Regions from separate parts of the Homo sapiens genome. Here region 1 is linked to region 2. Evidence: fine-mapped expression QTL. Tissue or cell type: whole blood. Region 2 holds a variant in brackets; the other region holds the start of a gene. All regions are shown on one strand. Distances are from middle to middle.

Region 1 (2,803 bases), 72 kb before region 2:
GGGAAAAATTATCCACAGTTTCTTTATCTGTGGATAAAGAAAATAGAAACAGCTGCTTCTATTTTTGTCACGGCCTGGCTTTTATACAAAACGGTCACATTTTCCCCACAGTCACAAACAGGGTGTGTTTATCATGGCATCACCTCTTTCAAGGGACTAATAGATTTATTCCAGGTGATAGTGGGAAGCAGCTACAGAAGGAGGATTGGAAGGCTGAGGGGTTGTTAAAGTTATCTGATGATATTGTTCGAACATTTCTCCGGCACAGAAACTCCACAAAGAACTCCTCTGCAGTTTTCGCTACCCAGGGCTGTTTCTTTAAATTGTTTGACGTCAGAGAAGGAATGCTATAGCAACAGTCTGTCAAACTGGAATTAACTCAGAAGAAAAATGGGGGTGGGGAGAGGAAAAATGCTCCCAGGCGGTACTGACTTCAGAGGAAGCAAATTGGATAGATGCATTTATTTTATGACATTTTAAACATAAAACACCCAGATAAATGTGAAAAAAAAAAAAACTCGATTGAGATGCATGTGGTGTTTAACTCATGCAGAGAAGAGCGACTTGGCAGGGATATCTGGAAGGCCTTCCAGTTTTATCAATGACAATAGGAACAATAACTTCCAAGTATTGGCCATTTATTTGGAGGCAGGCTTCGTGCAAACATCACTTCATTTAATATGCTTAGCACCTTTATGAGGCAGGTATCAGTATCTTTATTTTGGCGATGACGAAACTTAGGCCCGAGACGGTACACGGTCCTACAACTAGTGATGGAAGAGCGGGGACTGCAACGCAAGGTTGTGCAACTCTGGGCTTCAGTTTACTTTCTGACATTTAGAATTCCAGAATGGGAAACCTAAATGGGGCCTTTGGGGTCTTCTAGCTCTGCCCTTCGATCCTGCTAACAAGCAAACTGGCGCCTGTCAGCGCCGGAAAGGAAACTGGCCACGCCACTTAGACGGGCGCTACTTAGCAGCGTGCCCCGGCGCCACACCAACAAGAAAACGAAACTGCCCGGGAATGAATGTTTTTCTTCTCCTTCTGGCAGGAAACGAGAGAGAAAATAGGAAGCAGAAGCTGCGCGCGGCGCCCGCTCCCTTCGCCCCCCGCCCGGGCTGCGCGCGCTCCGAGGGTCTGCGCGTCCCCGGCACGTCCCCGCCGGGCCCGCGCGCCTCGTGCCTCGCGCCTCGCGCCTCCAGCCACGTCCCCGCCCCGGCTCCGGCGCGCCGCGGAGTTGGCTGCTGGGAGGTGCGGGACTGGGTGTGGCCGGCGGCTCTGGTCTCGGCTGTGAGCTGCGCTCTCCACGCCGGCTCCGCGCTCCAGGGGCTGCTGAGCGCCCAGCGGACACCGGCAGCGCGCGGTCGACGCGGGCCTGAGCTCCCTCCAGGTAGGCGGCGAGCTCGCGAGCGGCGGCTCGTCGGTGCGCCCCGCGAAGCGATCCCGGGCTTCTCGCAGGGACGTGGGGCGCCGCGAGCCACCCCTGCGGAACGGGGCCCGGGTGACGGCGCGGGGCGGGGCGGGTCTCCCCGGGCTCGGGCGGCCGACGCTGCCCGGGAGGGACGAGGAGGGCGCGCCTGTGTCGCGCCCAGCTGCCACGCGGGAACTGGCCCCACGACCGCCGGCGCAGGCACTTCCCGGGCGGTCCAGACCGCTCGCCCCGGGGAGCGAGGAACGGTCGGCGGTCCAAGTCCTGCAGACCCCCCTGGTTTCTCGTCACTCCCCGAGGCCTCCTTCCAGGAACTCAGAGCACGAGCCCGTGCGTGCCCCCAAAATAACGGGTATTCGGGACTGCCCAGCAGGGCTGTTGGGTGGAGAGTGCTTGGAAGACTCATAAAAGTTCTACGCTGAGTCCAAAATTAGTCCAATGGTTTTGTTTCAGATTTATTTTGGAAATGATATAATGTCCAGAGTTTGGGGATGGGAGGGGATTGATGAATTTTGAATACTTGTGAGTTCAGTACAATAAAAAGTGTTTTGCTTTTCTCTCCACCTTTTTCTGCTTCAGAACACAGATGATTGCCATATACTTTGATATGTATTGCTATTCGCTAAGGGAACGTTGAATTTTCAAAAGTTTGAAACCAGGCTTTCATTTGTTTATACAAGCAATACTTTGTTATTTTTCGTCTCCTTGTGTTCCCTTTTCTCCCACTCCTTCCCTTTCTCTTTCCATAAAGGATAAGGATGCATCTTTCTCCCTCTCAGCCACCGACAAAGTAGCTTGGCGTGTGGCTTAGCGGGAAGTTTTCTTAAAACGTTCAAAATTTAATTGTTGATTAGAACTTTTATTATGAGTCCGTCTCAGTGTTGCAAACAGAGTTTATGACCATTAAGTACATCTTCTAGGACAGAGACAGAACACACGCTACTTAATTTAAGATGGGAGGGAAGTTATTTCTAGTCGGAGAGGAGGACGGCTGATTAGGTGCATTCAAAATTGTGTGCTTCGAGTCTCTGCCATTGTTCATTTTAATACTCTTCAGTTTGGGGCTTTTGGTTTACTACTGATCCTAGGCTCTGAAAATTTACTGTATATTTCAGTATGTGGCTTAAAGACATTTTAAGATTTTCCATGTTGCATTTTGGTTTGTAGATGAATTTGAAACTGAAATAGAAACTTTTAAAATATCATCTTATTGAACGTTGTCAACCCTCTGTATATACATTTATAAAACTGATTGATACAGCTTGTGATATTTTAGGTTGGTTCAACTCTTTGTGGGCCCATAAACATTATTTAGGAAGTTATTCCGAGTCTTTGGCCTTTGTTAACCTGTAGAATTGTTTCTTTTAAACAATT
Region 2 (2,657 bases):
TATATCCTTCTTCCAGCTTACGGATGGACTCTGAAGATATTATTTTTTGCATAAGGAGCTCACTTGACATACTTCAAAGTCACCAATTTGCTCCTCATCATCAATAAATGTAGTGACAGGCAGAGGCTGCAGGCATACACAACTGAGTCACTGTCTTCCAAGTGCTGGCATATATGGCATCCTTCATCCTAAACTCCTTGTGCTGGCAAAAGCATCTATGGCATCTTTCATTCTAAACTCCTTCTGAAAACCTTCCACACCCAGGCCTCAGTTCACTGCTGCTAGCATGCTGCCCAAAAAAGGTTTTTGTATTTACTCTTCATTGATCGTAGAATACCCTGGTCACAAGGTTGAAATAATGAAACACTTTTTTTAATAAGAATTTCAGCTAGACGATGAGCAGAATAGTTGTCAAGGAATAACAAAATCTTGCAGTCATCATCCGGCCTAGCTTCCCTGCAAGTGCACACAAGCTGGTATAAAATGTTTGTGAAACCAATCAGAAAAGATGTCCCTAGGGATCCATGCCTTTTTGTTAGTACAATAATGGACTAGTAAAAAAAATGCATTCCTTGAAAACAGTGAGGATGCAAGCTTTTGCCTATCACAGTAAGTTCACATTTATGCCTGCTGCATTAGCACATCCCAGCACAGTTATTCTGTTCTTTGCATCCTTTATTCTTGTAGGGGCTGTCTCCTCAGCTGTAGTCAGTGTCTTTCTGGGTCAATAATGGCAAAACAGTGATGTTTCATCAGCATTATAGACTTGTTCTGGAGTCAGATTTTCATCAGAGACAATCTTGGCAAATTCATCAATGAATTTCTCTGCTGTTTTGTGATCAAGATGCTTTAACACCACAAACCTTTAGAAAAGTTAATGCTATCTTACCTTAAATTTCTCTAACCAGCCTATTGAATACTCACAGTTCCCTTCGATTTTCAGTTCATTTTAATAGATGTTTATTTCATGATCAGCATGTCCTTAAGTGGCACGTGTTCACTGCAATGCTGATGGATCCACTCTTTCAATGCATGATCAAGATCTTCGTTTTTAACTTTCTGCAGTGTTTTTGTTTTTTTCATTAACTTCTGTCATCATTTTTAGCATGGAACTTCAACAGTTTAGTCCTAAAGAACAACTTTAGGAAAGTTGTTCTTTCTTTTAGGTCATATATGGTGTTCATTCCAACATCATTCTTCTGTAAGAAGTTTCTCACTTACATTATTGTCCAGTTTTTCCAACAGCTTAAATTTATGTGTTATAAATAAAAATAAATGCCTCTTCTTTTTCTTATCAATGTCACCCACAAGGGTATCTGTAGGCCTTTTAAACATTTTAAACAGCCTGGGTGCTGTGGCTCACGCCTGTAATCCCAACACTTTGGGAGGCTGAGGCAGGTGGATCACTTGAGGTCAGGAGTTCGAGACCAGTCTGGCCAACACGGTGAAACCCCATGTCTACTAAAAATACAAAAATTAGCTGGGTGTGGTGGTGGGTGCGTATAATCCCAGCTGCTCAGGAGGCTGAGGCAGGAGAATCGCATGAACCCGGGAGGTGGAGGTTGCAGTGAGCCAAGATTGCACCACTGCACTCCAGCCTGAGCCACAGCGCAGGTCTCTGTCTCAAACGCATCCCCACTCAAAAAAAAA[T/A]TTTTTTTAAACAGTATCTTTACACCAGAGAAAAGACAGGAAGTAAAGAAGCCCATACTGGGTAATGCACAAAGGTCTTGGCCCCTTGTGGGGCATCATGGGGAAAATGCTGTTGGTGCACTGGACCTGCACATGTGCCATTTTAGTACCCTTCATAGGTGTGCTTGTGTGGGGGAATTTGGGCATACGTGGAAAAGATATATTGCAGCTAGAAGAGGCTGAGTCTTTTTTCCCTTGAGGACACTGAATAAACTGTGTGTTGTGTGCCTGCGTTTTTACTATGACCTCATTGAGGTCTGGTGTGGAATTTTCCACCTGTGGTGTCACCGTACTCAAAAAGTTTTTCATTTTGGACCTTTAAGGATTTTCAGATTGGAGATGCTCAAACTAAATATCTACCTCAGAAATGGCTCTAAGAGATAGATACTAGCTTTTAAATGTGCAGATTTTGTAAAGCTAGTTTTATTATAGAAAAACCACATAAACAAAATAATAAAGGAGAGTCTTAATTGGTAGATTCAAAGATACATACCTGAAAGATAGGCTCTGATAATCCTAGGAGCACCCTTTGAGCATTTCTAGGGCCCAAAAATCGATGTACAAGGGAAGACCAGCCCAGGGAAAAACGAAATACAATATCCTCTTGAAAATCTGAACATAACTTGTGGTAATTTAGATTATAACTGAGATCAAATTTCTTGCAAGGGATCAGTGTATGTAGTTTATCCTGTATACCAGCTGGAAGTAATGGCTTCAAATTTTCTAGAAAGAACAAAATTACAACACTTAAGATAAGAATGGTAAATGTTTTACCTTCAATGGAATGCCTAAAGGAAAATAAGCTCTTCACCAGTCATGAATGAAAAAACAAACCAGACATGACCTTGTAGACATAAATATTACCAATAATTTCTTGCTGGGTCTGAAGCACTAAGGCGTTTACTTCATCGGTGCATCGATCAGCCAAATTTCTTCCCATACCATCCTCTATGTGCTTATTTAATTCC

The links. PIP is the estimated chance that this variant, and not a neighbour inherited with it, causes the effect.
Region 1: it holds the start of GNB4, and the variant in region 2 is fine-mapped to the expression of GNB4 in whole blood (TOPMed, PIP above 0.99).

What each region holds. Positions count from the first base shown.
Region 1 is chr3:179,449,933-179,452,735 of GRCh38, reverse strand. GNB4 (G protein subunit beta 4) reads left to right here and starts at 1,266. Exons shown (of 10, transcript NM_021629.4): 1 at 1,266-1,390. It also overlaps the pseudogene RPL29P34. RefSeq lists silencers at 1,096-1,245, 1,286-1,695.
Region 2 is chr3:179,378,340-179,380,996 of GRCh38, reverse strand. MFN1 (mitofusin 1) reads right to left here. Exons shown (of 18, transcript NM_033540.3): 13 at 2,554-2,656; 14 at 2,183-2,412. Among named protein-coding and RNA genes, the nearest start is that of MFN1, 32 kb to the right of the region's middle. The variant T/A (reference allele first, on the strand shown) is at 1,651.